Linked DNA regions of Homo sapiens. The protein of the gene in region 4 purifies or fractionates together with the protein of the main gene of each other region. This does not show direct contact. Each region holds a gene or a part of one and is shown on either strand. Other genes may lie near its edges.

Region 1 (6,866 bases), on a different chromosome or scaffold from region 4:
GGGTCCAGAGCCCAACCGCACAGGTGCAGGCACCCAGTGCCCCAAGATGGACAGTCTCTGCCACACTGGGCTCAGGGCCATGAAGGCCAGCAGAGGTGGATACTGAGGCTGGATGGAGGTCTCCCGAGGGCCCCTGGAACACAGGCCCCTGCCGCCTCCTCTCTCCCCAGCACCTGGCACTGCCTGGCATTTCCTAAAGCCACCCAGGCATGGATGAGGGACCGGGGGGCTCCATGCTGGCTCAGAGCTGGGAGATCCTGGCATTTCCTAAAGCCACCCAGGCATGGGTGAGAGCTGGGGGACTCCATGCCAGCTCAGGGCTGGGAGCTCAGCTGCACAGATGCCACAGGATGAAGCCACCTTGAAGGGATCATACCAGGGAGGACCTGGCTCTCTGCAGGGAGACCCCCGGAAGCCAGGCAGGCAGGAAGCAGAGGAGCCTTCTGGAACTCAAGGCAGCCTCTGAAATCAGGCAGTTCCAGCCTGCACTTTGCAGATAAGTAAAAGTGAAGGCAGCAGGGTCAGATTCTGTGCCACCAGATTACCGGGTGGAAAATTCACAAAGAACAGATTTCCCCACCCAGGCCAGGCATGGTGGCTCACGCCTGTAATCCCAGCCTTTTGGGAGGCCGAGGCGGGCAGATCACCTGAAATCAGCAGTTTGAGACCAGCCTAGCCAACATGGCAAAACCCAGTCTCTACTAAAAAGACAAAAAAATTAGCCGGTTGTGATGGTGGGCACCGGTAATCCTAGCTACTCCGCAGGCTGAGGCAGAAGAATTGCTTGAACCCAGGAGGTGGAGTTTGCAGTGAGCCGAGATCAAACCACTGCACTCCAGCCTGGGTGACAGAGCAAGACTCCATCTCAAAAAAAAAAAAAAAAAAATTCACCACCCAGAGATCTCACAGTCCAAAGCCCTCTGCTGAGAGAGGAGGGATTGGGGTTACTGAGAACCTCCCAAGAGTCTCCACCCTACACAGAAGACGGGGAACTCCAGCTCTGGCCCAGCCCCATCTGACCACCTGTGAGTGGTATTGGCCTGGAGATGGAGCCGGGTAGGCTTGATCCCTTTCCAAACCGGGACATGGTGGGACCAGGGCCCAGGCGACAGGGATGCACCTCCCAAGGAGGCTGAGCTCCGTCGGGGGAACCTGGCCTGGCACCCAGCACACACCCTCCACAAGCCTAAGGACACAGTGGCTCCATCCTGTTCCCAGGCTACTCCATGGAAGGAAAACCCACGTCCACAGACCAGCCTCCGTCCACAGTTTCAGGCCCCGTCTGTGGACCCCAGAGCCGGGAAAGGCCGCCTGCCTGCGTAACCCTTCACAGCCCTGCTCAGGTGCCTACTGAGGCGACCATGCCACTCTGGGGGGCTGCAGGGAGGAAGGTGGGAAGGATGATGGGCTGAGCTCTGGCCTGGGGAGGCACGGATCTGGAGGCTGGGGGGCCTTCCGTGAAGTGGCAGCAGGCTGGGACCCACACCCAGGTCCGCAGGACGGCCAAGGTCCAGCTCCACTTGCCGAGCCCAAAAAAGCAGCCAGCTCCTGACCAACCTGTGTCAGGCTGGGAACTTGCCCACGATCGCAGCCTGGCCCGCCAGCATCGGACCCCTCTTTGCAGGCTAGATCCAAAAAGCTCACGGCGCAACTTCAGCAGCCCCCAAGCCCCGGCGCGGCGGTGTTCTGATGCAGAACGAAAACGGCCACGTCCCCATTTCGCCAGGTGGCCCAGGACCCCGGCCAGCTTGTTTTCTGAGGGGCTGCAGCTGCTACTGAGCCCCTCTTGTCACCCAAGCAAGACTCCTTCTCAGAGGGAGTCAGGCCGATGCCTGTCCTGCACGGCTGAGACCTCTGCCATCTGAGGAGGGCGGGAGGGGGACAGAGCCCAAGACGCGGAGGCCGGTGCCTCATAGGGGAGGCACGGGCGACAGACCCACAACCTGAGCTCCTGAAGCAGGAAGGGAGTGGGGACCCAGCGGAGGAAGAGGCCGGGGATGGGGTGGTACGCTGCTGCCGGTGACTTTGCCGCTAACCCTAGCGAGGTGACCTCAGCTAAGTCACATTCCCCTGAGGCTCAGGAGCGGGGAACGCAGCTGAAAGGCTACAAGGAGGGAGAGAGGGGAGTGGGGAGTCGACTTCCAGGACAGGGGTTGGTCCGAGGGAGACCTGCGTCAGGCTGGGTTCTGGGCCAGCACATTGGGAGGGGAGAGAGGCCTCGGAACTGAGGGTCTCAGGCGGCACAGTCAGGGGTCAAAGGGCGGGAGGTGCTACCTCGCAGGCCAGGACCGGACTCCAAGCCTGGGTAGGTGGGGACCTGGGAAAGGCGGTCGCCGGGGACAGGATGGGCCCTGGAGGGAGCTGACAGTGAGGTTTCCAGAGTAGAGAACAGCGGCTTCTAGTGCAGCGGGATCCGGCCTTCCCGGGTGGACGTCCCCGGGCGGGATGGGGTCACGAGACGGTGTCCCTGGCCAATCCCAGGGTCAGAGGTCGCGAGGGAGAGCCCTAATCGGTAGGGCCGGGTATAGGCCTCAGGGTGCAGGGTGGCGCTCGCTGTCCCCAGCGGGGCCAGGGGTCGCGGTCGGAGGTAGCAGACTTGGGGGTCGGGACAGCCGCTGGGGTCAAGGGTCGGGGGTCGGGGCCGCGGTCACCTTGAGCAGCACGAAGAACTCGAAGAGACGGCGGAAGGCGGGCGGGAAGAGCCGCGAATAGGTGACAGCCATCTTGAAGAACAGCGCGTGGAAGAGCCGGTCGCGCACGTTGATGAGGGGGTTGGGGTTGAGATTGGGGGTGCGAGGCCCGCGCGCGGGGGCCGGGCCGCCGCCGCCGCCGTTGGGCCCGGGCCCCGGAGCTGCGGGCTCCACGTGCTCCGACATGCCTCCCAGCGTCGCGCCCTAACGACCCGCAAGTGTCCGAGGGCGCCTCCCGGCCGCCATCGGCCGCCCTCGCAGCCGCCGCTCTCCTCACGGCCTCCCGGCCGCCGCCGCCATCTTCCGCTTTCTCGTCCGGCTGCGGCGCTGCTGACGCTAGCGAGTCGCCACGCCGGGCAAGAGCGGCCCCCCTGCGCCCGCAGAGAACGCTGGGATGCCAGCGGCGCCCGCGGAGGCCTCACCCCCTACCTCGGCCGCTCCAGGGGGCGGGCCTGCATCTGGGCCACCTCTTTTGCATATTGGCACCCACAATCCACCGCGGCTATGAGGCCAGTATAAGGCGGTAAAATTACGATAAGATATGGGATTTTACGTGATCGAAGACATCAAAGTAAGCGTAAGCACGAAAGTTGTTCTGCAACATACCACTGTAGGAAATTATGCTAAATATGAAACCGACCATAAGTTATCCTAACCAAAAGATGATTTGATTGAAGGGCTTAAAATAGGTGTGACAGTAACCCTTGAGTCGTGCTCGCTTCGGCAGCACATATACTAAAATTGGAACGATACAGAGAAGATTAGCATGGCCCCTGCGCAAGGATGACACGCAAATTCGTGAAGCGTTCCATATTTTTGCTGTAGTCTACAGCTCGTCACCTCGTTTGGCTTCTCTTGCCCGGATCCTGCCATGACGTCACAGGGCCAGTAACGTCATAGTCTTCCCGTGTCCATCTCCTGTGGCGCCACTAAGGTTGGCGGTAGAACAATCTGGCAGTCTCTACTCCTGCGTGGCGCTGTGCCACCTGCCCCCGTAGCTTCGCGCAGCAATGAATAAATAAGTGCTCTTCAGGGGCACTTACTGAGTGCCGGCTGCGTACACAAGAGGATACTATGGTTTTTGGGTTTTTTGGTTGTTTGTTTGAGATGGATTCTCGCTCTGTCGCCCAGGCTGGAGCGCAGAAGCGCGATCTCGGCTCTCTGCAACCCCCGCCTCCCGGGTTCAAGCCATTCTCCTGCCTCAGCCTCCCAAGTAGCTGGGATTACAGGCATGCGCCACCACTCCAGGCTAATTTTATATTTTTAGTAGAGACGGTTTCTCCATGTTGGTCAGGCTGGTCTCGAACTCCTAACTTTAGGTGATTTGCCCGCCTAGGCCTCCCAAAGTGCTGGGATTACAGGTGTGACCCACCAAGCCCGCCAAAAAAAAGTTTTGTGTTGTTTTTTTTTTTTGAGACGCAGTCTCACTCTGTCGCCCAGGCTGGAGTGCAGTGGCGTGATCTCGGCTCACTGCAACCTCCGCCTCTTGGGTTCAAGCAATTCTCTGCCTCAGCCTCCTGAATAGCTGGGATTGCAGGCTTCCGCCACCACACCCGGCTATTTTTTTTGTATTTTTAGTGGAGACCAGGTTTGATCATCTTGGCCAGGTTGGTATTGAACTCCTGACCTCGTGATCCACCCGCGTCAGCCTCCCAAAGTGCTGGAGTTACAGGCATGAGCCACCGCGCCCGGCCCCCCCAAAAAAATGTTTTTAAAAGTTAACTGAGGACGTTGGTGCATGCCTGTAATTCCAGCTACTTGGGAGGCTGAGGTGGGAGGACTGCTTGAGCCCAGGAGTTGGAGGCTGCAGTGAGCCATGATCGTATCCCTGCGCTCCAGGTTGGATGACTAAGTGAGACCCTGTCTCTAAAAAATAAAGTGTAAAAAAGCCAACAGTCAGTATTTTTAGCTTTTTTGGGTAGAGTAACTACTCCACTCTGCTGTTGTACAGAAAACGCAGCCGTAAATGATACATAAATGGATGGGCACAGCTGTGTGCCAATAAAGCTTTGTCTGCAGACACTGGAATTTGAATGTTATGTAATTTCCACGTTTGATAGAATGGTTTTCATATTTTGGGTTTTTTTTTCAACCACTTAAAAATGTAAGAGCCATTCTTAGCTCACAAGCCATACAAAAATAGGCTGCAGCTGGATTTGGCCCACAGGTCAAGAACACAGCTTTCCAAGAGAAAGATAAGCAAATAACAAACATAACTTTAAGTGTTCTGGTAGCCACAGTAAAACAACTAAAAAAGAGCAAGTGAAATTAATTTTAATAATATATTTTACACATCTCAAGTTATCCAAACAAGGTCAGGCGCGGTGGCTCATGCCTGTAATCTCAGCACTTTTGGAGGCTGAGGCGGGAGGATCATTTCAGCCCAGGTGTTCAAGACCAGCCTGGGCAATATAATGAGATCCTGTCTCTACGAAAAATACCAAAAATTAGCTGGGCACGGTGGTGTGTGCCTGTGGTCCCAGCTACTTGGGAGGCTGAGGCAAGAGGATTGCTTAAGCCAAGGAGTTGGAGGCTGCAGTGAGCTGTGATGGCACCATTGCACTCCAGCCTGGGCAACAGAGCAAGACCCCACCTCATAAACGAAAAAAAAGTGGCCGGGCGCGGTGGCTGACACCTGTAATCCCAGCACTTGGGAGGCCGAGGCGGGCGGATCACGAGGTCAGGAGATCGAGACCACCCTGGCAAACACGGTGAAACCCTGTCTCTACTAAAAATACAAAAATATTAGCTGGGTGTGGTGGCGGGCGCCTGTAGTCCCAGCTGCTCGGGAGGCTGAGGCAGAAGAATGGCCTGAACCCGGGAGGCGGAGCTTGCAGTGAGCCGAGATCACGCCACTGCACCCCAGCCTGGGTGACAGAGCGAGACTACTTCTCAAAAAAAAAAAAAAAAAAAAAGTAACTGAGATGTACCAAGTCTTCAGAATCTGGTGTGTTTCCCATCCATGGGGTGTTCCAATATGGATACCAGTGCTTCCTCAGAAATACTTATCTCCACAGTATTTAGATTTACAGCGTTTATACTGAAAAGGAAAATTCAGAAACGCTAAGGTATTTAAAATATACACGAGGCTGAGCACGGTGGCTCACGCCTGCAATCCCAGCACTTTGGGAGGCTGAGGCGGGAGGATCACTTGAATCCAGACTGGGCAACATAGGGAGACCCCATCTCTACAAAAAATTTAAAAATTAGCTAGGCATATGGCACATGCCTGTAGTCCCAGATACTCAGGAGGCTGAGGCAGGAGATTACTTGAGTCCAGGAGGTCGAGGCTGCAGTGAACTATATTTGCACCACTGCACTCCAGCCTGGGTGACAGAGCAAGACCCTGTTTCAAATATCTATATATTTACATTTATATGTATAATGTGTACATATGTGTGTATTTATGTATTTGAAAACTTTAATGTGTGTGTACATATATATATAGTCAAAAACGGAAATCATGTCAGTTTTTAATTTTTAACTGAAATTAATTGAAATAGCCCGGCCACGGCAGCTGACACCTATAATCCCAGCACTTCGGAAGGCTGAGGCCGGCGGATCACTTGAGGTCAGGAGTTCAAGACCAGCCTGGCCAACATGGTGAAACCCGCATCTCTACTAAAAATGCAAAAATTAGCCAGGCGTGGTGGTGCGTGTCTACGGTCCCAGCTACTCGGAGTCCCAGCTACATATATATGTGTATTTATATATATGTGTCTTCAAAAAATGGAATCTAGTGCCAGTTTTTAATTTTTAATTGAAATTTAAGAATAGGAAGTATTTGCTGGGTGCGGTGGCTCACACCTGTAATCCCAGCACTTTGGGAGGCTGAGGCGGGCAGATCACGAGGTCAGGAGATCGAGACCATCCTGGATAACACAGTGAAACCCCGTCTCTACTAAAAATACAAAAATTAGCTGGGTGTGGAGGTGTGCCTGTAGTCCCAGCTGCTGGGGAGGCTGAGGCAGGAGAATGGCGTGAACCCAGGAGGTGGAGCTTGCAGTGAGCCAAGATTGCGCCACTGCACTCCAGCCTGGGTGACAGAGCGAGACTCCGTCTCAAAAAATAATAATAAAATAAAATAAAAAGAACATGAAGTATTTGCTTCCCTGATGGCACCAGCCACACTTCCAGTGCTCAGTAGCCCCATGGCCAGTGGCTACAGTAGTAGAT
Region 2 (7,720 bases), on a different chromosome or scaffold from region 4:
ACTGCTTTCCTATTCTACATCTCTCCCAGGCTGAGCCCAACTACTCCTAAGGCTGCAAACACCAAAAACACACCCAATTCACCATCTTTCCACACACTTCTCCTGTATTCTATCTTGAAGGATGATACCACCTTCCTTCCACCCAGTGGCTGGAATCAGTCGTCTTTAAATCTTCCTCAGCAACACAGCTAATTAGCCACTGAATTTCATCTTTTTTTCTTATCTCACAAATCCTTTCCCCTCTATGTCCAGGGCACACTCTTCAGGCCCTCTCCAGGTTTGCTAGAATTGGGTGCCTTATGACCCTTGTCATGCCACTCTCTAATCCAGCCTTTCCCATAACTGCTTCAAAATACAGATCTGATCATTCACCCTTCTGCTTAAATGCCTTCTCTCACTGCCCAGAGACTCTGAGGCAAAACCCAAAGCATTAACACCCAAGAAACCTCATCAGCCTTATTTCTGGTATCTCCCCAACTTAATCCTGTACATTTCAGCCCCACCAAACTACTTGCCCCTTTGCTCTCACATCGCCATGCTTTTACACATGCTGTTCTGTTTCAAATACCTTTTCTTCCCACCCCAACTTTTCAACACATTAGCCCTGGGAGGCACCTCCCATGGGAAATTTTCCTCAGCCTCCCCAGTCTGGGCTAAGTGTCCTTCCCTCTAGGAACTCCACTATACTGTGCTATTATCGTCTACGAATGGTGGATGGAATCAATAATAATAAAAAAATGGATCCTATCTCCCTCTTCTACATGACATCACTTCAAATTCCATGTGTTCACCCTTGGCCTTTCTTCTCCAGGCTAAATATCTGAATTTTATCAAATACGCCTCATGATATGGTATTCAAAATCCTAGTTCCCTTCCTCTCTCTCTAGGTCCCTAGTTCTCCCTCTAGTTTGGCAACACTGTTTTAAAGGATTTCTATTTTTGTTTCTGCCTGGAATAGAGAAGTCAGAGCTCTTAAAGATGTTTTCCACTACATCACATTTAGTCATTGTGGAAAATAATAACTGAACCTCATCTGACAAGACTGAGCAATTCAGAAGCTGACAGGATCAGGTTCTTGTTCTGTATGAACTCGGCTATGCTAGTAAGGAAAACATGTTCAAACCATGTGCAGAAGCAATTATTTTATCTCAGACCCAAAACAAAAAAGCCTATACCTCACTGAATCAAAATAATATCAGTCAAAATATTAAAACATGGAATCTCAATAGATGTTCAGTTAAACCACAGGATCAAAGGGAATATTTTTAAAATTTCAAAAACTGAATTAAAATTAATTCCCTCAAAGTATCTCAGTAGATCAGAAAGACCTTTCCAGAGCCAGAAACAGAAGAAAGAAACAAAGAACTCGAAAACGTTTGGGGCATGGATACAACGTAACTATCATTAACACACAAAACCCCCGCACCTCTAGGGACAGAGATCTGCAGATTTCAAGAGCATACTGGTGCAGAATTAAATCGCCATTCCACAAGCAGGACCTCCCAACACCTCACATAGGTTTTTGGTTTGTTTGTATGTTTGTTTTTGCTTCTGAGACAAGGTCTGGCTCTATCGCCCAGGCTGGAGTGCAATGGCGCGATCTCGGCTCACTGCAACCTCCGCCTCCCGGGCTCAAGCGATTCTCGTACCTCAGCCTCCTGAGTAGCTGGGATTACAGGTGTGCCCCAACACACCCGGCTAATTTTTATATTTGCAGTAGAGATGGCGTTTTGCCTTGTTGGCCAGGCTGGTCTCAAACTCCTGACCTCAGGTGATCTGCCTGCTTCGGCCTCCCAAAGTGCCGGGATTACAGGCGTGAACCACCGCGCCCGGCCTCCCATAGGTTTTAAACTGACACACTGAGATCAGAGCACCCATTCCTCCAAGCCGTTCTCAACTTGGCCTCTTGTTCACTACTGTCTGTGCCTCCAGTCTCAGTCCCCATCACTCCCACATTCTCACACAGTAATAGCGTTACTTGTGCAACACAACATATATAATGGAAAAGGCCGATGCGCTGGCACCACCTCATCTGAAATCAAATCCAGCACCCAACCTGTTTAGTGTTGGGTAATTTATTTAGGTTGATCACCCTGCAAAACAAAGATGATGCCCTCTAAGGACTGCTGTCAAATGAAATACATTACCACATGATATGCAGTAAGAGGCCACGTATTAGCTGATTTCTTCACCTCTTGCTGAATGCTTAGGAATCTAGGTTCTACTCAGAAAGCTACCATTTATTGACATGTGACCCTAAAAATGCGACTCACATCCTGTTTCCAAATCCTTAAAATTTGGAACTCTGACAAACTATTGAGAGGTGCTTTGTATTCGCCTTAAGAAATATAAGTCATATAAAAATAATGACTCCATCTCAACTTTTGCATCCGGAAATATACATAAGGGAAGGGAGGGGCAGGGATTTCAGCAATTACTGATGACAACCACTAGAAATGAAGGCACCATACAAATGCAAAAACATCGTGGCAGCCAGTGGCAGCTAAAAAGTCTGCCTTCTCTTCTTCGCAGCGGGCTGCGACTCAATCCCAGTTCACTGAGAAATGCATCTCCGTACTCTGAAGGGCCTTTTCAGGCGCAAGAAGCCGGCCGGACGCGCCGCCCTCAAAGTGGAGGGTGGAGGCAGGCTCAGGGGCCCCCTACGCAGCCCAGCCCCGGCCCCGGCGGCCCGTGAGGCCGCGCCGCCACGGCCGATCCAGAGAAGATGCTGACGGGGACGCGGCTGAGGCGAGGCCGCCGCTGACGGACCGCACTGCGGCACCTGCCTCGCAGCTACTCGCCCGCGGCCGCCCCCGACCCCCAAGCCCCGCGGCGCAGGACCTCCCCAGGCACGTCCTGCCGGCCCCCGGCTCCTCACCCGCCACCAACGCCAGGAGCACGACAAACACAGCCATGGTGCCGCGGCGGCCGCAGCACTGCGGGGCGACACGGAACGGGCCGGCGGGACACGGGCGACAGCCGCAGCGTGAGGAGGTGACGCGCTCGGACTCGTCCAGGCTCCCGGGTCCCGTCCCTTCGTCGCTTCCGCTGGGACAGCTGCCGCTTTCTCCACCAATCACCAGTTACGCCGCGGCCTACGGAAGGGACGTAACCTGGGAAGCGACAGCCTGATAGGCGGGACTTAAAGTAACGGATGGAGAGTTCTACCAATGGTAGGCAGCGATTGAAAAGTCGGGCAGTCCCGCCCCCCGGTCGGTGATGACGGGTCAAGAGGTGGAGCGTAGGGCGGGTAGTCGGAATGGGTGATGGAGCTAGTCGAGGGGTCCCGGAGCCCACGGGGTGAGGGTGCCTCCCGAGTGCAGATCTTTCTGCCAGTCTCGAGCGACGGTCTCCAACCAGGGTGTCTGTCTTTCCTGGTCGTGTGCCTCCGCCCGGCTACGGACGCCAGCTGTGAAAGGCGGGGCTGGTTGGGGTTTCGCTCTAACAAGTATACAGACGCCGAGCACCTACTGGGAAGAAGCCAGGCGCAACGGGGAACCCCTGCCTTCCACATAGTGGTGCCAGATAAAATACAGGGCGCCCAGTTAAATTTGAATTTCATGTAAACAACGATTATTTGTTATTATGTCGCAATTAATTTATGGGACATACTTGTATTAAAAGAAGTATTACTGGTTATCTGAAATTCAAATATAACTGGGTATCCTATATTTTGATTCGCTAAGTCTGGCAACTCTACCTCCAAAGACTTTCCAATCTACAAGGAGTCATGGGACAGAAAGTTAATTAATTACTTAATTTGTCCATTCACTCAGTTTCCAATCTGGGCAAGGTGTTCTATGAGGATGTATGAAGGCTAGACATAGTAATTAGACCAGGCTCCTCCCCTCCCGCAGTTCATAGTCTTTTGCCTATGATGTGAGGCAAGAAGGGACACACTATAGCGTCTGTAGGTAGAAAATGACGCCCCAGCTGATGACCTTGAAAGGTGGAAATGATTTCATATCCAAGGATAGGAGATGGGGAGATTGTTCCAGTGAAAACTGTAGTTAAGGTGGGGAGAAAGCCCCGTCAGGTTAAGCATCAGTAATCAAATAAGAGATTATATGAGAGAGGAGGCACAGAGCTAAAACTTTCAGTTAGGCACATTTATTGAGGATTTTAAATTGTACATAAGAGACCTACACTAAGCCATTGAAGGCGTTTGAGCATGATTTACTGCACAAATGTAAGACAGACTTATTGGCGGGGGGGAGGGGGGGAATGCCTTACTGTTTCTTCAGTTTCCAGTCCCATTTTCTTCTTGGAGTTTCCTGAGGATGAAAAAATGAGAGCGAGTTAAAAACAGTGACCCCAGGAGTTCCCCAGGTAGCAGACCCACCCTAGGAAAACCTTGCCCAACTGAAAACTGAATCAGAAAGACACTCTCGAGGCCAGGTGTGGTGGCTCACACCTGTAATCCCAGCGCTTTGAGAGGCCGAGGTGGGAAGATCCTTTGACACCAGGAGTTGAAAACCAGCCTGGATAACATAGTGAGGCCCTGTCTTTTTATTATTAGAAAATAAAGAAAGCAAAAAAAGAGAAACACTCACTAAATAGTTTGAACTTTCTAGAACACACTATGCTTACCAAAGCCACTCTCAAATTTAGGGAACAGAGTCGATTTCCTCACCTAACGTCAAGAAACAGGAAACTCTCAAACTTGCTTTTCCTCTAGAGGAGAATTTGTACAAATGGGACTTTAGAGAACTCTGAAAGGGAGAAGAGAGATTTTTCCATCAGGCATGTGAAATTATTAGAACCAAAATGTCTAAAGCACCCCTCCAAAACATCCACTCTAATGTGACTGACTCGAAAAAAATTAATCACTTTTTTTGTTGTTGTTGAGACGAAGTTTCCCTCTTGTTGCCCAGGCTGGAGTGCAGTGGTGCGATCTCAGCTCACTGCAACCTCCAACTCCCGAGTTCAAGCAATTCTCCTGCCTCAGCTTCCCAAGTAGTTGGGATTACAGGCGCCAACCACCACGCCCGGCTAATTTTTGTATTTTTAGTAGAGACGGGGTTTCACCATGTTGGCCAGGCTGGTCTCGAACTCCTGACCTCAGGCGATCCACCCACTAAAGCCTCCCAAAGTGCTGAGATTACAGGCGTGAGCCACTGCTCCCGGCGGAAAAAAATTAATCATTTTTAAAAATTCATTTTTAAGCATGATAAATTCACAATCTTTTCACACCAACTAAAATTCTTTGTCCATCTCCCTGCATGTCTTAGAACAGGTTTTGAATCACAGGCCCTGCAAGAACTTATCTAAACCTTATTTAGGGACATAATCAGCTAAAAGTGGAGCAGACCTCCTGCCATTTCATCCAGCTTAAGGAAACAGGGAAAGGAGTGAATGTTTCTGTTCTTAAGACTTCTAGTACATTCTTATTTCTTTGAATTTGAGGAAGATGAAAAAATTTGTAAATAGACTGGAATATAAAATAAGTCCCCACCCCCCCATTCCCCCAGAAAACCTCACAATCTTTCACAATCCATTTATGTCTTGAGAAATAACATCCCCTTTTGAGCTAACAGCGAATAGTGTATTCTTTACACCTAAGGGCCCTTTTCACCTGAGGTTGCAAAGGGGCATTGTTGTTCTCTACAACCTTGGAATTTAGCAAGATAAACATTGTCGGAAGCCCTCTCCTTGTTTCATAGATTGAGAGATTGAAGCCTAGGGAAGGGCATATGTACTCAAGGTCATATTCTGAATCGTCAGCAGTTCTGCTTCGTGAATGCAGCCCTGCTGATTCAATCTTTAGCGCTCAGTAAACAACTGGTGATGTGCGGTTAACTTTTCCACTGAAGCATTTAGAGATGGATATGTGTGTAGCAGGGTAATACAATATTTGAAGTTATGACCCCATTTGTTAGCCTAAAAGAAGCCTTTCTCCACCCTCCCCACAGGCCAAATAGGCAAGACTGCAGCCATCCGTTGCCCTGAGGGGAGGACTCTCAGGAGAACCTGAAAACAAATGTCAAATTCTTGGCTCTTGAGTTTCAAAACTAGAGGTCCAGATGCAAGATTTGAAAGAATACATAATTCCATTTGCTTCCTTAAGTCTCGCCCTCGTCCCCCAATTAAGTCCAGCAGTGAGTTCTGAGTGATCCCGGAGTGAGCGCGATAACATGAGCTGATCCCTGCAAATGAGACATCCCATCCAGGAGCCCTGTGGAGGCGAAGATCATGCCCCTCTCCCAGACCATGCAGTTAAAATTAAGAATTTATGTTCTTCAAAAGGTACTATATACACTATGGAAAGGTGTGGGGGAGGGGAGAGCAGCTTTGCAGTGCAAAAACCCAACAAATACTATCTAGGCGATGTGATCAAGGTCAACACCAACAGTGATCGGTCATGTTGACAGTGTGTGCCCTTGATGTGATACAATGATAATGGCAGGCACTTCACCTCTATGATCTTCCTCCCCCATACCCATAACCCCAGTGTAATCATGAGAAAAACATCAGATAAATGCCAATAGAGGGGCATTCTACAAAATATCTGACTGCTGCTCCTCAGAAGTCATCAAAAACAAGGAAAGTCTGGGCTGGGCGCGGTGGCTCACACCTGTAATCCCAGCAGTTTGGGAGGCCTAGGCGAGTGGATCACTTGAGGTCAGGAGTTCAAGACCAGCCTAGTCAACATGGTGAAACCCCATCACTACCAAAAAATACAAAAATTAGCCAGGTATGGTGGTACGTGCCTGTAGTCCTAGCTACTCGGGAGGCCAAGGCGGGAGAATCGCTTGAACCTGGGAGGCGGAGGTTGCAGTGAGTCAAGCTTGTGCCACTGCAATTTAGCCTGGGCGACAAAGTGAGACCCTGTTTCAAAAGAAAAAAAAATTAGCCAGGCATGGTAGCGCATACCTGTAGTCCCAGCTACTGGGGAGGCTGAGACAGGAGGATCACTTGAACCCAGGAGGTTGAGACTGCAGTAAGTCAAGATCTCATCATTGCACTCCAGCCTGGGTGACAGAGGGCAACGCTATCTCCAAAAAAAAAAAAAAAAAAAAAAAAAACCCAGAAACTATATTTTTAAAGAATCCAGCATAGATGACAAAAGTTTAAAGAAAAGCAAGGAAATGGTTACCATAAAAAATTAGAACAGTGATTACCTCCAGGGTGGAGGGGAGAAAGATATGTCTGAAAGAGACATGGAGAAGTATTTAGGGGTGCTGGTCATTTCTGAATGGTGGTGGTGGTTGTCACACTAGTGTTCATTTTGTGATTATCCATATTCTGAGCATTGATATTGTATGTTCACTTGTGTGCTGTATTTTCCAGTAGAAAGGTTTTAAAAATCTAGTTTGCTTTTTTTGAGTCTTGAGAAGGAGCACTTCTTTTTGACTTGGTAGAAATTATTTGTATGTGGTTTCAAATTATGTTTGCAAAATCTTGTGTTTACAAAACATGTCTTCAGTGAGTGTGGAAGTTTCCAAAGAAAGGCCAGTGTTGTGGTTGGCATGCTAATGGCTGTCTTCCGAGAGATAGTAGAGATGCTATCTCCTGTGGGAATTCACTATGAGGCAAAAGCCAGGCTTTGGCCTTCCAGCCTGAGAATCCCAGTTCTATCAGCATCCGAGAGTTAATCCAACTGGGTGACATCAACCCAAAATAATAAACTCATAAGATCTTAATGTTGCGAACAGCAGTTTGTTCATTTACAGTGAGATATATAAGTATGTAGTAGTCTGCATATTCATGTCAACCTGGC
Region 3 (7,660 bases), on a different chromosome or scaffold from region 4:
ACATCAAGCTTATGGGAATACATAACATCACCAGCAGCATGTCCTGAATGAAAAAGCAGAGGGGCTCAAGACAGATTCCAAGCTCATGCACAAGAGCCGCCCATGGGGCAGTGGGTGTGGGCAGAGAGGAAGGAGAAACCCTGGGAAACTGTGGAACCAAAAACAGTAGAGAAAGGACCCTCAGGAGGCAGTAAAGTGCAGCATCAAATGCGGCTGGACATCACAGAAGATGCGTGTGGTGTGATGGGCTTTATCTCACCTAGCTCATCGCATCTTATTTTTTGAGACGGAGTCTCGGTCTGTTACCCAGGCTGGAGAGTAGTGACATGATTTTGGCTCACTGCAACCTCTGCCTCCCGGGTTCAAGAGATTCTCCCGCCTCAGCCTCCTGACTAGCTGGGACTACAGGTGCGTACCAACACGCCCGGCTAATACTGTATTTTTAGTAGAGACGAGGTTTCACCATGTTGGCCAGGCTGGTCTCGAACTCCTGATCTCAGGTGATCCACCCGCCTCGGCCTCCCAAAGTGGTGGGATTACAGGTGTGAGCCACCATGCTCGGCCTGATTTTATTTTTTACAGCAAAGATTAGCCAACTGCAGCCTGCTTTTGTATGGCTAAACTAAAAGTCTTTTTCATATTTTTAGAAGGTTAAAAAATGTAAGAATATGGGACAGAGACAGAATGTGGCCCTTACAAAAAAGCCTGCAGGATGGCTTGTAACCTTGGCAAAAACAGATTCAGGGGAAAAAATGGGGACAAAAGCCAGACTGCAGGTTACTGTGGAACATAAAAATAATGAAGCACTAAAGCAGCTCTTTCATGACATCCAGCTATGAGACAAGAGCTTCGTGGGGACAAGAGCGGGGGAAGAAGTTTGCTGGTTGTACAGATGGAAGAGAGGTGAGCATTGCCCAACACAAACAGGAAGAAACAACAAGACAGAAGGATGAAAATACAGGAAAGGGAGGCTATGACTGAACGAGGCTCCCTTATAGGGAAGAAGGATACCAGATCCAGAACATAGACAAGAAAGGACACCTACTTTTGAGGTAACAGGAAGGCAGGAAAGGGTGGCTGCAGACAAACATCTAAGTCTGCAGCCATATAGGTGAGAAACATCCCAGTTATGGCTTCAGTTTTCTCCAAGTCATCTGCTGGTTGCAAGGCAGGAGTGGCAGGATCAGGGATTTAAGGAACAGGCTGAAGTCTCGAAATGTCTGTAGTGAAGGCAGTGTGTGCTGACTCAGTGTTTGCTCTACAGAATGCACAGCAGCCTCAAAGACCCAGTCAGTGTTAGAGACCACAAACCAGACTTGCATTCACGTGGCTGCCCACCACAAGCCACAAGCATTTTCCAGATAATGGAACATATCAACTCTGATGGACATTACAAATCCTGATGGACATTAGAAACTCTGATGGACACCTAAAATATCTTGTTGCTTTCTTGCCCTTTGAAAAGAACATATTTAGATAGTGGTTAAGCACAGGCATTGGAATCAGACCTGGGTTAGAACTCAAGCTTTGTCACTTACTAGCCATGTAACTTTTGCTGAAGGAATTAGAATATTAACCTCAGTGACCCATGGTAGAAAACAGGATATCACTATCTGCCTCAGTTATCATGAGGATTAAATTAAACCAGATTTATAAAATACAGTAGTCTAGTGAGTGGCAAGAGAAACGGCTCAGTAAATGATAACTACATCATCATCATTATTATGAGCAGCAGCAGTATTTTGCTACCTCAACATGACTGGTGCTGGCTTAGCTTAGTGGCAGAATGAAGCCCGGACAGATGTCAGGGCACTCCCACCTCCATACAACTTCCACTGTGTCACTAACCAAGTGACCCTGGCAGGATCCCCTGGATATCAAGTTTCCAGTCTGCAGAATGAGGGGACTGGACTGCACTACACAGTTCCCAAGGCTTTTCCCGTCTGCATCTAGGGCTAACAGTGCTCTGCACTGTGAAAATAGGAACTTTCAAGCAAGCACGTTCCTCGATGTACTACTTTGTGGTCAAAAAGACTTGAGTCTGAATCCTGTTCTTATTGAATGAAGATGAGTTCTTTAACACTTTTGAGACTCGGTTTCCTCATCTAGAAAAGAGTAAGCGAATCGCAACGAATGGTAGTGTGATGATTTAACACAGAGCACTCAGGGAGGAGCCGCTGGCTATCCCTCCTCTGCCGCACCTCCCAGGGTAAACGTGGGGACCAGCACCGCTCCCGGGCAGACCCGCGAGCGGCCCGCACGACGCCCGACCTGAGCCTTTGCTCAAAGCAGGGGGCCAGTCCTTATGTTTCTGAACACAAACAAATGGAGAACAAACTGGGACCTTATTAAAAAGGCAGGCTTTGGGGGTGTTACTGCATTGAAAAGCCCTATTTAGGCTTGGCCCTGAGAAATTTTTCTCTTGGGTCACGCATGTTCACGGTCCTCCCAGGCGAAGCCGCCCTGGGGACGAAAACCGATCACAGAGGCAAACTCAGGGGCGAATAAGGACCGCAGGACGCCAAGGAGGGGCGTGGAGCTGTGGGATCCGCGCGGCCCTTGGGTTGCCCTGCCTGCAGCGGGAATTTGTGTGCCTCCTCGCGGGCACTGAGCGGGGCGTCCCAGGGGGCGTTGGCTTCCACCCCCACCATTCCCCAGCCGGCCCCGCCGGTAACGGGCTTCGGCGACGGCACCCAAGCGGGTCCTCAGGAGCGGCCGCCGCGCCCGGGACGCCGCAGCCCCAGCCCAGGTGGGAGGTCGGAAATCGGCGCGGCCAGCTGGGCAGCGGCTCAGCGGGGCTGGGGGCGCGGGGTCAAGCCTGGCAGTCCGGCCCGGCGGAGGCGCGGCTGACAGGGCAGCCCCCCAGCCCGCCGGGCCTCACCTGGAAGTGCTCCTGAAAGCGAACAGGGAGGATCTGCGCCATGGCTGGTGCGGGACCTCGGCGGCGGCGGCGGCAGCGGCAGGAATGAACGCCGACCCCTCGCGCGGGCTGACCGGTGGCGACGGCGCAGGCGCAGTGCCCCGAGCTCCCGGTCCTGGCCCCCGCCCTCCTCCCTGACCGCGCCCCGGCCCGCACCCCCTTTCCCCGCCCCTTCCCCCGCCCCTGCCCCGCCCCTGCCCCGCCTCTGCCCCGCCCCTGCCCCCGCCCCTGCCCCCGCCCCTGCCCCCGCCTCTGCCCCGTCCCGCCTGCGCGGATCCCTCCGCCCGCTCCGAGGGTCCGCGGAAAGTAGTCCCGCGCGCCCTCTGCCCTGACGCGGTGTGTGCCAGCTACCCGAGTGAAAGGTTTTCGGGGGATTAATCCTGATGGGGTCTGCGGCGGCCCTTGCCCAGCGCCTTCCACATGTGGAGCGGGCCAGTGGTGCTAGTTCTGCCGCCAACTCTGGACGGTTGAGTTCAGGGCCACTTTTTACTCAGGCACGGATGTGACAGAAAGATGGAAAAGGGTCTTGGAAGAACCACATGTGCCGTATAACGAACGACCTTTTGGTCTGAGGAGGACCGTGTATATGACGGTGGTCCCATAACATGATAACGGAGCTGGAAACTTCCTGTCCTCTGGTGAGGGCTTAGCTAAGGACATTTCCTCTCCTGTATTTGGAGATACACGTACAGGTATGTCATTACCGTGCCAGGGGAATAACGCACCTCACACGCGGTGCGGGTTTGCGGCCTAGCAGCAGCGGACCGCATCAGCTGCCTAGTTGTGTAGTGGCTGTGCCATCTGAGTTTGTGTAAGTTACCTTGTGATGATCCCACAACCGAGACGCATGTCTCAGAATGCATGGATGCATGGGACGCGTGACTGTACGTGTTACAGACGTGTTTCGGCGTGAGGCTCGGCCCCTGCTCCTTTAGGAAACACCTTTCCTGGCTCATGCGGTTTCTAGAGAACACTGTGTCGGAATATCAATGTAGAGAGTCAGCGAAGGTCATCTAGCAGCAGATGACCAGCCCCAGGCCAGTGAGGATCACCCAGAGTGCCCGTGGCTGCACGACAGTAGTAGCAGGTGGAAGCTGGAGCCCACACCTGGTTTGCCCAGCAGCCAGTTGTTTTTCCGAGGCACCGTTGGCTGATGTTTTGCATACAGATGATTCAGCTGCATAAAAGATGTCTGTCAGGAAAGGGAAGCCCTTGGCATTCAGCACAGGCACTCCCTACGGGGTAATCGATAGCCGTCTCTGCTGCTTCCCATGTTGCTCACTGGTAATTTTAAGAAATGAACGGCCCACCTTGAATAAGACAAGGATGGTGCAATTATTTGCGCAATGGCTTGACCATCTAGTAGCCAAAAATATGTTAAGGAATAGAACAGACTGTTCACTTTCAAATTAAATCTCTTTTCCAGTATTAGCCAAGACCTCTGCAGCCCGCCCTTTCTAAAATCCATGTGGCCTCATCCGCTAAATATAGAGCTGGGTTTTGCTGTGGTTAGTACTACATTTCCCAAATCTCTTTATTTTGGCAATGATGCCTGTGACTCCAAGTACCCTTTACCCCAAACATTATATAAATTTTTTAGTAATTAATACCATCACTCCCTAAATCACCTTCCCCAGGGCTTTTTGGGGATTAAAACTAAAATTTTATACCCTAAAAGAAAGAATTTAAGAAAATCATAGTTAAGCAAAGTGACAGGATTGTTAATACGTCGGGACCTCAAGTGGGGATTAAGTTTCAACATTAATTTTAGAGGAGACACAAATCTTTCTGTCTCTTCAAACCATAGAAGAGACAGAAAGCACAACAGTTATTTGAATAGACAGAAGTGAATATAAGTGATAGTTGTAGTTAACAGGAAATAAAGTTGTTAATATACTTGTAAAAAAATTAAATGTTCTGACTTGAAAGGGACTTTAATATTCTCACCACTTGTAGGTAACTTGCTAAGTAACCCTAAAAAAACCTTTCAATTCTTTTTTTTTTTTTTTTTTTTTTGAGACAAGAGTCTCGCTCTGTCGCCCAGGCTGGTGTGCAGTGGCACGATCTCTGCTCACTGCAACCTCTGCCTCTCAGGTTCCAGCCATTCTCCTGCCTCAGCCTCCCAAGTAGCTGGGACTACAGGCGCACGCCACCGCACCTGGCTAATTTTTCATTTTTAGTAGAGACAGGGTCTCACCATGTTGACCAGGCTGGTCTCAAACTCCTGGCCTCAGGTGATCCATCCACCTCGGCCTTCCAAAGTGCTGGGATTACAGGTGTGAGCCACCGCGCCTGGCCCGGGATTAAGTTTCAACATTAATTTTGAAGGGGACACAAACCTTCAAACCACAGAAGAGAGAGAAAGTGCATCAGTTATTTAAACAAAGGGAACTGAATATAAACAATAGTTAACAGGAAGTAAATTTAAAATAATAAAAAGAAAATCCCAAGATATGGAGTTACAAACATAGGACACAGCTACCACCCCTAGAGCTCAAAGATGAAAGAGAAGCTGGAATTATTACAGCTTAAAGGAAGGGCTTGCAGAGCTGGAATTCAGATCTCTGAGGAGGTGTGTTGACCAGCTGGGGCTGGGGTCATTGAGCCCAGAGGAGAGATCCCATGGGGATGGGACTCAGACCTCTGAGGAGGGTCCCTACGGGACTTAGACACACACTATGGATGAGGGGTGGCTGTGGAGCTGGGAGTAAGCCCTCTAAAGAGGGCACTGGGAGACTCTCACCCAGATCTCTAAGGAGAAGGCATACTGAGGCTGGTTCTGCAAGTCTTGGAAAAACTTAAACTGGATTCAGCTTCTGTGGGAAGAATGTGCTGCTGCCTTGTTGAAGAAGCCTAGCTGGGGTGATGCTCACAGGAAGTGGCCCTGTGGTCTCCCTCTATCAACCTATCAGCTTAGTCTAATAGGGAATATTAGATCAGATCTTCTTTATTTGCCAATGAGAAATATGTTTTTTAGAGTCTCAGCCCTGGCATCAGAAGCAGTGTCTAGAGGTGGGAAGGGAGAATAGAGCTGAAAGACATTATTTAATAACTGGTACAAGAAACGACATGTTATAGCTAAATTCCAATTCCCATGGGACTTTCCTATAGGTGGAATTGAAAAGTCTGTGGAGGCGTATAATCGCAGCGCTTTGGGAGGCTGAGGTAGGAGGATTGCTTGAGCCCAGGAGTTCAAGACCAGCCTGGTCAACCCCATCTCTTCAAAAAAATTTAAAAATTAACAGGGCATGGTGATGCATGTCTATAGGCCTAGTTGGGAGGCTGCAACAGGAGGATCACTTGAGCCCATGAGCTCAAGGTTACAGTAAGCTATGATCGTACCACTATACTCCAGCCTGGGCAACAGAGAAAGACCCTGTCTTTAAAAAAGAAAAAGTCACTGGAGGACTTTAGTTTTCAGACAGCTTCAGAGAACTAAAAAGGCAGTGAATAATTATGAGGCCAATATCAGAGAGAAAGGACATGAGAGAGGTGAGTGGTTTATGGCTGCTTTTTCTTGAAAGGCATCTGCCAATTCCAGATGAATGTTTGAGACACTAGGACTCTGAGCAGCACTTTTAACACTCTCATTGCCCTAGGACGACAAAATTTGGAGGCTTGGTACCACCAAGGAGGTATCCCACTGTACTGTTTTGGGACCACAAGTTGTTTGGGACTCCATTCAAATCATGTCAGTCCTTGCCAGCAGCAAATGTAAATCTTCCCTGGGAATGATAACCTCATCCATGGTCTCAAATTACTTCTACAATTGTTCATATGCAGTGTTCAACACTGAATCAAAAATAAGTAGGCATCCAAGGAGAAAAGACAAAATGGTTGCAAAAAACAAGAGCAAGCCTGGACAACATAGTGACACCCTGTTTCTAAAAAACTAATAATAATAATAATTAGCTGAGCATGCACCTCCAGAGTCTGAGGCAGGAGGATGGCTTGAGCCCAGGAGGTCAAGGCTGCAGTGAGCCAAGATCACACTGCTGCACTCTAGCCTCGGTGATAGAATGAGGCCCTGTATCTGAAACAAAAACAAGAACAGTAACAGACAAGTGAGCTCTAGGGGATCAAAAAATGGAGTTTTCACAAAGACTTTTAAATAATTATGCTTAATATGGTTAAGAGGATAAAAGACAAGGTTAAGAATTTTATCACAAGCCTGTAAATTATAAAGAACCAAATGGAAATTCTAGAACTGAAATTGTGAAAATTCACCAGATAGTGTTAGCATATTACACACCTCTGAAAAGAGAAAGCTAGTGATGGTAGAGTTAAGTCAGAAGAGTATATCTAAATTAAAGCACAGAGATAAAAGGACAGAAAATAAAGCATATGAATAAATTAGATATAGAGGATACATGTAGAGGTCTAACATACAGGTAACTGAAGTCCTAGAAGTATAGAGAAAGAGACAGAAGCAATATCTAAAGAGATAATGGCTTAGGGTTTGAAAATTAATGAAGGATATCAATCTTCAGTTTCCAGAAACATTACAGATTTTAATTGGAATGTGTAAATTAAGGCAAAATACACTTAGGCATATCATAATGAAATAGCTCAAAACTAGGGAAAAAAAACTTAAAAGAAGCCAGAGGGAAAACAATGGATTACTTTCTAGGGAGAGATAATTAAGCTTAACTACTGACTTCTCAAACAATGAAGCAGAATAATCGTATCTTCAAAGTGGTCAAATAAAATAATGAGGTTGAAACTGGAAAAGTTCCCTTG
Region 4 (7,944 bases):
CCCACCAACTGGGTTTCAGTCAAACAACAAGCCTGAGTGTCATGACCCATCTCAGGAAAAGGTTTTAGAAGCCTGATCTCCTAGTACCTCACCTTGCTTTCCCAGGTCGCTGAGAGTCCCACCATGTCTTGTATCCTGGGAAAAAGAAAAAGAAGATGATTCAGAATAGAAGCAGCTCAGAGAGCATCCATTGACAGTCTGGCTCAGCCCTCTCTATTCCCCAACATATTAACTCTGCCCTCCCCATGGATTCTTTTGTCTGGAACCATTTTGACTCTTTTCTGGACTACAGAGCAGGCATTTCGGAGAGAGGACATAGGCTGCCAGTACCCATCTACTCTCCTGTTCCAGGGTAGGAGCATGCCATAGAGTAGTAGGGAGCCCTGTCAGAAGAAATGCTCGAATGGCTGGGCACAGTGGCTCACCTTGTAATCCCAGCACTTTGGGAGGCCGAGGCAGGAGGATCACCTTGAGGCTGGGAGTTCAAGACCAGCCTGGCCAACGTGGTCTCTACTAAAAATACAAAAAATTAGCCTGGCGTGGTGGTGCATGCCTGTAATCCCAGCTACTTGGGAGGCTGAGGCATAAGAATCACTTAAACCTGGAAGGCGGAGGCCGCAGTGAGCAGAGATCCTGCCACTGCCCTCCAGCCTGGGTGACAGAGTGAGACTCCATCTCAAAAAAAAAAAAGAAGAAGAAAAAAAGCCTCCAAGATTCATTCCCACTTATTTATTTATTTATTTATTTATTTTGAGATGGAGTCTTGCTCTTGTTGCTCAGGCTGGAGTGCAATGGTGCAGTGTTGGCTCACAGCAGCCTCTGCCTCCGCCTCCTGGGTTCAAGTGATTCTCCTGCCTCAGCCTCTCGAGTAGCTGGGATTACAGGTGCCCGCCACCACGCCAGGCTAAGTTTTGTATTTTTTGTAAAGACGGGGTTTCACCATGTTGGCCAGGCTGGTCACGAACTCCCGACCTCAAGTGATCCACCTACCTCAGCCTCCCAAAGTGCTAGGATTACAGGCATGAGCGCCGTGCCCGGCTAACTCCCACTTCTATGACGTTTAAAACTTGGTCACCATCTCAGCCCAGAGTCTCAGTGAATGAGATGGGAACTGTGTTGTTTGTATGCAGACTTCCTATGGTCCCTGAACAGTATAGAAACCAAGTTTCCATGTTTTTTCTAAACTCTGTATCTTCTTCCACTGCAGGGCCCTACTCTGAGGGGCTACCTAGACCACGTACTGAAGAGCATGTCCTTACCTGACAAGTGACGTTGCGGGTGATCCGTTTATATTCCTCATTGGCCAGCTGTATCTTAATCTTCTCCAGCCGGGCAACTAGTTCTGGGTTCTGAAGCAGAAAAATCAAATGAGAAGAATGATATTCCCAGCTTGTTAGAAAGCACATCACAATCATTGGTTCCAGGGGTAAAGCACTGCTAAAGGTATCAGGAGACCCACATACTAGTCGTAACTCCAGTGCTTTGAAACTGTTTTTTTTTTTTTTGATCTCAATTTTCCAAACAGCTGATGGGGAGGACAATATCTGGCTCCCCCAGATCCCAAAGATTTCAAAAACAATTTTTCAAGCCTAAAAGTTGATTTATAAGTTCAGTGTATCATGGATAAGCCCAACTCAGTCAATAACCACTCTCACAAACATATCCCTTACATACCCGTGGAGGCTTCACAACCTCTGGGAGATAGATTTCACTGCCTTCTAGGAGCTCATGGAGGTATAGTTTGGAATCTGAGAAGAAAAGGTTTCACAAACACAATGATCCACGAGCTGAGGTTGAAGGGTTAAGATCAAGAGGGGTGTAGCCCTTCTTTCTACCAAAATAAAACAGGGCCATCTCTACATTAATCCATTTCCAGGATCATTTTCAATTGAAAAGAATTTTGGATAATTCCATGTAGGTATCTCCCAGTGCTGCGCAGGTGACTTTAGCTGTCAGCTCTCAATTATCCTGCCAGTGTTATAACTAACAAGTAAGCCATTTACTTGTGCCTTTGGGTTAGATCAGTTCTGTGGCCACAACAGCTCTTCCCTAAATAAGTTTAGGTCATAGTGATGCTAAATGCTCAGAGGACACTAATACTAGGCAATCTCTTTCTAAGGTCCTTTCTAGTTCTAATAATTGAGCAGTCTACCCTTTGCACTTCTGGCTGGTCTATGTTACTTCTGGCAAAATACCTTATGTGCTAGTTTGTCCTGTTCCTTCCCTTTACACATAAGGGAACTGAGGCCCAGCGAGGAGAAATGACTCCTTCAAAGGATTAGTGACAGAGCTAGGACTGGAACTCACATGCTACTCTCAGGCCAGATCTTTCAACACAGCTTTTGCCATCCTATATTAAAAAAACAAACAAACAAAACAAAGTATCAGATTTCACCACTCTTGCTTTTGAGGTGGAAAGAAATCCGGATTCCTACAAGCTCACTATGCTAAGCTGATTCCTAAAGTGGAGAAAAAGAAGAGACAAAACCTGTGATATTTGTATTTGGTAAAAACCTAGACTTTCTCAAGGGTGAATTGGGCCTAGGTGTGCCTGGAAGTGAAGAGGGGGCTCTCAAAAGAGCAGAAACTGCACAAGCAAATTTGTCATCCACGAGAAATTCCCATGGGAGTTAAGAAAGTGGGTGGCCCTGGGATTTATGGAGTGACTCTTGACTTGTCTAGATGAGTGCTCCGTAGAAGAAGGGGAATGATGGGAAAAGACCTCAGGAGGGAATCGATCTGGACACAAGGAGGGGACCCCGGACTGGAGACTGGGGCTCACCCCTTTCTCTCAGATGCTGGTGCAGATCCCGGATGAGACGGAAAGAAACCAAGCGTTGGGGGCCACTGGAGCTATCACCGCCCTTGTGCTTCTTCCCCAGCGCGGCCTCAAGCTCGGCCCGCAGCTTTCGGGGTAGCCGCTCTGGCTCCAGCTCCCCGCCGGGGCCCAAAGCACGCACCAATCGCTCGCCCGCAAGCAAAGAGGACGCCATATCTAGCCGGCTCTCCGGTCAGGTGACCCCAACCCGGACTTCCGCCCGCCGCGCGCCGGAAGTAACGCTAAGCGCACCGGAAGTTGCTCTGAGCTCCGGGGTGGGACCAGGCGGGCCAAGAGGGCCGGGACGCCGCGCGGGGCAGTGTGGGACTGGGGCGGAACGCCGCCCGGCCGCGGGTCGGGCTCTGTGTCAGCAGCCGGGCGGGCGCTCGGGCGGGACATGGCAGCCTGTACAGCCCGGCGGGCCCTGGCCGTGGGCAGCCGCTGGTGGTCCCGGTCGCTGACTGGGGCCCGGTGGCCAAGGCCGCTCTGTGCGGCGGCCGGAGCTGGAGCCTTCTCGCCAGCGTCGACCACGACGACGCGGAGGCACCTCTCGTCCCGGTGAGGGACGGAGCCAGGGGGCGCGAGGAACTGGGCCTGGAGCCCAGAGAGCGTGTTCCTAGCCAGTGCGGAGGCCAGGGGCCCGGGCCTGCTGAGGGTGACTGGAGTTTGACCCGGGAGAGGGTCCCGAGCAGGGAGCCGACCTGCGCTGTCTGGGACATGTGCCAGGAGCAGGGAAGCCAGCGCGGCCCAGAGCCCTGGTTGTACAGGGCTGGCCCTGGGGGGGAACAGGTTACCCTCCCCAAGTGAATCCTACTTCCCCGGCTGGGGTCCCCAGCACCGATGTCAGAGGGAAGCTTTTTAATTCAGCCCTAGGGCATTGGCTTGAACCCTCAGCCTTTGGATTTGGTGAAGGTCTGCCTCAGAAAGATGCTAGAGGTGGGAAACGAGACTCTTGGGTGTGGACCCTCGTAGGCCCCAGGTTTCCAAGTGACTTTGGGGAGATCGATTTTCTATCTGTGACTTGGGGAAGGGGGTTTGAGGCCATGGGGATGGTGTGGAAACTGTTTCCACGGATGGGACAGGCGGATCAAATGGGCTGGTGGATCAGTGGGAGGAAGCATAAAGTTCACATCTTCAAAACAGTAAAAACAGCCTTTATTTGAAGGGCCCCTAGAAAGAGCAGCCCTGTTCAGAGTGGTGACTGACATTTTAGTGGCTGATATTAGACACTGAACATTGGGGAGAGATGATAGCTATTTGCAATTTAAGACCCCTGTGAGAATATGAACAAAAACGGTATTGAGAGAGCGATGTGCCGTAGGAAATCTAGAGATGTTTAAGCTTTTCAAGGGCAATGTAAGGGCTACAGGTTAGAGGGGGAGATGGACATGGAATTATAATACAGGACAAATATTTTTTGAGCACCTCTTGTACACTAGGCTCTGAGGGGGCAGTACCAGCTAATCAGACTCAGGCATTGCTCCCAGGGAATTTACAGTATTTAATAAAGATAAGACATGGACACAACTGAAATGTAAAGGGAGCAGGATATTGTTTGATGACTTGTGATATAGAAAATGTAAGAAAAGAAGAAAAAAAGATACTCCCCTTCTAAAAAAATTGAAAAAGTGAGCAAGACAGTTAAAGTGCTGTGGGAGGTCAGGAGGGTGGGTTAGGGAAGAAACAAGGGCAGGGGTACATTTGAGCAGAGTGTGAGGGCATGATATGAAGAATGCCCAGTGAAGAGAGAAGACAGTAGTATGGGAGCGGTCACATCTAACACTGGGAGACTGTGGAGGTTTTCACCAAGGAGGAGGAAAGCCTTTCCTGCTCCAGCTGGTCCCACTACCCCAAACCCTTCTCTGCTGTCATCGCCCTGGCCCCTCAGTATCCTAGGAGCTTTTTCTTATGGATAACTACCATTACCTTCTCAGCTTTTCTGTTGCTTGTTCTTTTCCTTCCTACTCAGAAACCGACCAGAGGGCAAAGTGTTGGAGACAGTTGGTGTGTTTGAGGTGCCAAAACAGAATGGAAAATATGAGACCGGGCAGGTGAGTATTGGGCTGGGTCATCTTTCATTTTCATAGAGTGCTCTGCTTCTGAAAAAAGTCAGATTAGGTCACAGGCCTGCATGGTATGGTGTTCCATTCATTCCACCTTGATGTTTGGTGCCATTCCAGAATCAAATTTGTATTCATTTTTTATTTTATTTATTTATTTTATTTATTTATTTTTTGTGAGACGGAGTTTCAGTCTTGTTGCCCAGGCTGGAGTGCAATGGCATGGTCTCGGCTCACTGCAAGCTCCACCTCCTGGGTTTAAGCAGTTCTCCTACCTCAGCCTCCCTAGTAGCTGGGATTACAAGCATGCGCCACCACACTTGGCTAATTTTGTACTTTTAGTGGAGATGCGGTTTCTCCATGTTGGTCAGGCTGGTCTCGAGCTCCCGACCTCAGGTGATCCACCTGCCTTGGCCTCCCAAAGTCCTGGGATTACTGGCGTGAGCCACCGCACCCAGCCCAGAATCAAATTTTTATAGATAGGGTTTCTGTTCTCCTGGATTTGAATGCACTTAATGTGTCAGTGGGTTCTCTTTCCAAGTTAATGTGGACAGGGATGGTGTGGACTATAGTGAGGTTTAGCCAAGTTGCTGAAGATTTCTCTAACATAGTGGATGGTGGGAAGCCGTGGAGGGAGCTTTCAGAAAAGTATACCTTTGATGCTTTGCCGTAATAAAATTGACTTCAGTGTGGTAAACTCTGGATGTGTGGTTCTTTTTCTATATCAGCTTTGTTCTGGGTCCACTGGGATAGATTTAGGCCCTTCTAGGATATTGTAGGTAAGGAAGACTTTTTGTTTGTTCAACATTTTATTTTTCTGTGTGCCTACAATGGACTAGGCATTGTGCATTAGGGTTAAATCAGAAAGCAAAGTAGACATGATTCCTGCTATTGTGGAGTTTCTAGTCTAGAAAAGAACGATTTGCAAATGGCCAATAGCTGTACATTGTGCTAAGTGGAAGGGAGGTCAGGGAAGGCTTCCTGGAGGCCTAAGCTTTTACCTAAAGGATGAGTAGAGTCAGCCAGGTAAAGAAGAAATAAGAGTGTTCCAGCATTGGTCTGGTTGATCACAGACTTCAAGGGAAGAGGTAGCAAGACCTTGTGCTGGAGTTGCCTCCACCTGTGTTGCTTTGTGGTCTGGGGCCCACCTGGATGGATTTGCTGGACTGCAGACTCACTGAGGCCCCTCTTTCCTTCCAGCTTTTCCTTCATAGCATTTTTGGCTACCGAGGTGTCGTCCTGTTTCCCTGGCAGGCCAGACTGTATGACCGGGATGTGGCTTCTGCAGCTCCAGAAAAGTAAGTTTCCCTGTGGTTGTGCCTCACAGTATCCTCAGGAGGAGATGGCAGACATATGTAATTGGGGTACTAGGGGTGAAGACAGCGTCCTCCTAGGCCTTGGAAACATCCCCAGAGTACTTCTCTGGGACTAAGACCCATGGAGACAAAAGTGCTGAGTGCCAGGGATAGTCTAAGTCAGAGAGTCCCTTTAGGCCTCCTCAGAATGCTTTCCTAAGCCATTCCTAATTTTCATTATGAGTATCCCAGAGGGCATTTGGGGGACAAGTCTTCTTGATTTCTTGATGTTCAGCTGGAGTCTTTCCCTCAATCTCACATCATCCCTAGAATACATTAAAACAGAAAAGGTTCAGCCCCATTAAGTGATCACAGACAGTCCCTGGGATATAAGAAGACAAGAGTACTCTGGGCCCTGGGGACTGAGGTGGCAATTTGATTTTCTCAACATGGCCCCCTTCTTTTAAGAGGTATCCACACGGTCAGATGATGGCTCCATACCATGGTCTTCCATGCTCTATTATTTGCCCCAACTGAGGAGCAGCTGAGCTGAGGTGCTGCAGAGCAGGTGTCCAGCTGGTGCTAAAGCCCCTTTAGATCAGAGACCAGCCTGTTTAGGTGAGGAGGAGTAGGGAGCTGAGTCAGCCACAGCTTCCATTTCTCCTGGGGTGATCTTGGCCTCCTTCTCCCACCCCATAGAGCAGAGAACCCTGCTGGCCATGGCTCCAAGGAGGTGAAAGGCAAAACTCACACTTACTATCAGGTGCTGATTGATGCTCGTGACTGCCCACATATAGTAAGTAAGCAAGATGGCTGGGCTTGGGGGTCCTCTCCATGGAAAGTCCTGCATCCCAATGGGGACAAAGGGAGGGAAGGGGGTCAAACAGAGCCCAGGTCAGTCTTGGTCCCCAAGGCCTTGGACTGCACAGTGGCCAACAAAGCCCTGATTCACGTCTTTTTTTTTTTTTTTGATATGGAGTCTCACTCTGTCGCCAGGCTGGAGTGCAGTGGTGAGATCTCAGCTCACTGCAACCTCTGCCTCCCGGGTTCAAGTGATTCTCCTGCCTCAGCCACCCGAGTAGCTGGGATTACAGGCATCTGCCACCACACCAGCCTAATTTTTGTACTTTTTAGCAGAGACATGGTTTCACCACTGATTCACTTCTTGCCTTAGTCTCAGAGATCTCAGACAGAAGCTGTGACCTTCTTGGCTAACCATGATGACAGTCGGGCCCTCTATGCCATCCCAGGTGAGTAGTTAGCATTTGAATGGTGCCCGTCAAGAAGGAGTCTGGTGTGTCTCAGGGAGAGGATTCTGATGTCCTGTCATCCACTGGGAGGGATTATGATGCTGAGAGGTATGATATCAGGGTTATCCCATACTGGAACAAGGCCAGTTAATGTTTCTTCTCAACCCCATCTCTCTCCTCTCCTGTGAGTTTCACCACTGTCTTTTGCATCTCTGTGCCAGGCTTGGACTATGTCAGCCATGAAGACATCCTCCCCTACACCTCCACTGATCAGGTTCCCATCCAACATGAACTCTTTGAAAGATTTCTTCTGTATGACCAGACAAAAGGTAATCTCTCTCAAGAAGGGGAGGTGGAATGGGAGGGCCTTTTCATCAAAGAATATCATAGAAATAATTCCAGGGCCGGGCACGGTGGCTCACGCCTGTAATCCCAGCACTTTGGGAGGCCCAGGCAGGTGGATCATCTGAGGTCAGGAGTTCAAGACTGGCCTGGCCAACCTGGTGAAACCCTGTCTCTAC

The links.
Region 1: the proteins of VMA12 (region 4) and TMEM259 purify together in Homo sapiens (affinity purification with mass spectrometry; 2 studies listed by BioGRID and IntAct, with this or other methods). This does not show direct contact.
Region 2: the proteins of VMA12 (region 4) and ATP6AP2 purify together in Homo sapiens (affinity purification with mass spectrometry; 4 studies listed by BioGRID and IntAct, with this or other methods). This does not show direct contact.
Region 3: the proteins of VMA12 (region 4) and CLTCL1 purify together in Homo sapiens (affinity purification with mass spectrometry; 2 studies listed by BioGRID and IntAct, with this or other methods). This does not show direct contact.

The regions. Positions count from the first base shown.
Region 1 is NC_000019.10:1,018,121-1,024,986, forward strand, and holds the start of TMEM259 (membralin), read right to left. Parts: upstream 3,004-6,866; 5' UTR 2,877-3,003; coding exon 2,652-2,876; intron 1-2,651. UniProt on the Homo sapiens protein: May have a role in the ERAD pathway required for clearance of misfolded proteins in the endoplasmic reticulum (ER). Promotes survival of motor neurons, probably by protecting against ER stress.
Region 2 is NC_000023.11:40,576,261-40,583,980, reverse strand, and holds the start of ATP6AP2 (renin receptor precursor), read right to left. Parts: upstream 3,012-7,720; 5' UTR 2,916-3,011; coding exon 2,879-2,915; intron 1-2,878. UniProt on the Homo sapiens protein: Multifunctional protein which functions as a renin, prorenin cellular receptor and is involved in the assembly of the lysosomal proton-transporting V-type ATPase (V-ATPase) and the acidification of the endo-lysosomal system.
Region 3 is NC_000022.11:19,288,719-19,296,378, forward strand, and holds the start of CLTCL1 (clathrin heavy chain 2), read right to left. Parts: upstream 3,002-7,660; 5' UTR 2,924-3,001; coding exon 2,882-2,923; intron 1-2,881. UniProt on the Homo sapiens protein: Clathrin is the major protein of the polyhedral coat of coated pits and vesicles. Two different adapter protein complexes link the clathrin lattice either to the plasma membrane or to the trans-Golgi network.
Region 4 is NC_000017.11:28,352,720-28,360,663, reverse strand, and holds the start of VMA12 (vacuolar ATPase assembly protein VMA12), read right to left. Parts: upstream 3,018-7,944; 5' UTR 2,994-3,017; coding exon 2,783-2,993; intron 1,749-2,782; coding exon 1,675-1,748; intron 1,350-1,674; coding exon 1,260-1,349; intron 136-1,259; coding exon 93-135; intron 11-92; exon of another isoform or gene 1-10. Other genes in the region: POLDIP2 (polymerase delta-interacting protein 2), read left to right, coding at 3,216-3,376, 4,788-4,869, 6,079-6,176, 6,873-6,969, 7,348-7,423, 7,645-7,752. UniProt on the Homo sapiens protein: Accessory component of the proton-transporting vacuolar (V)-ATPase protein pump involved in intracellular iron homeostasis.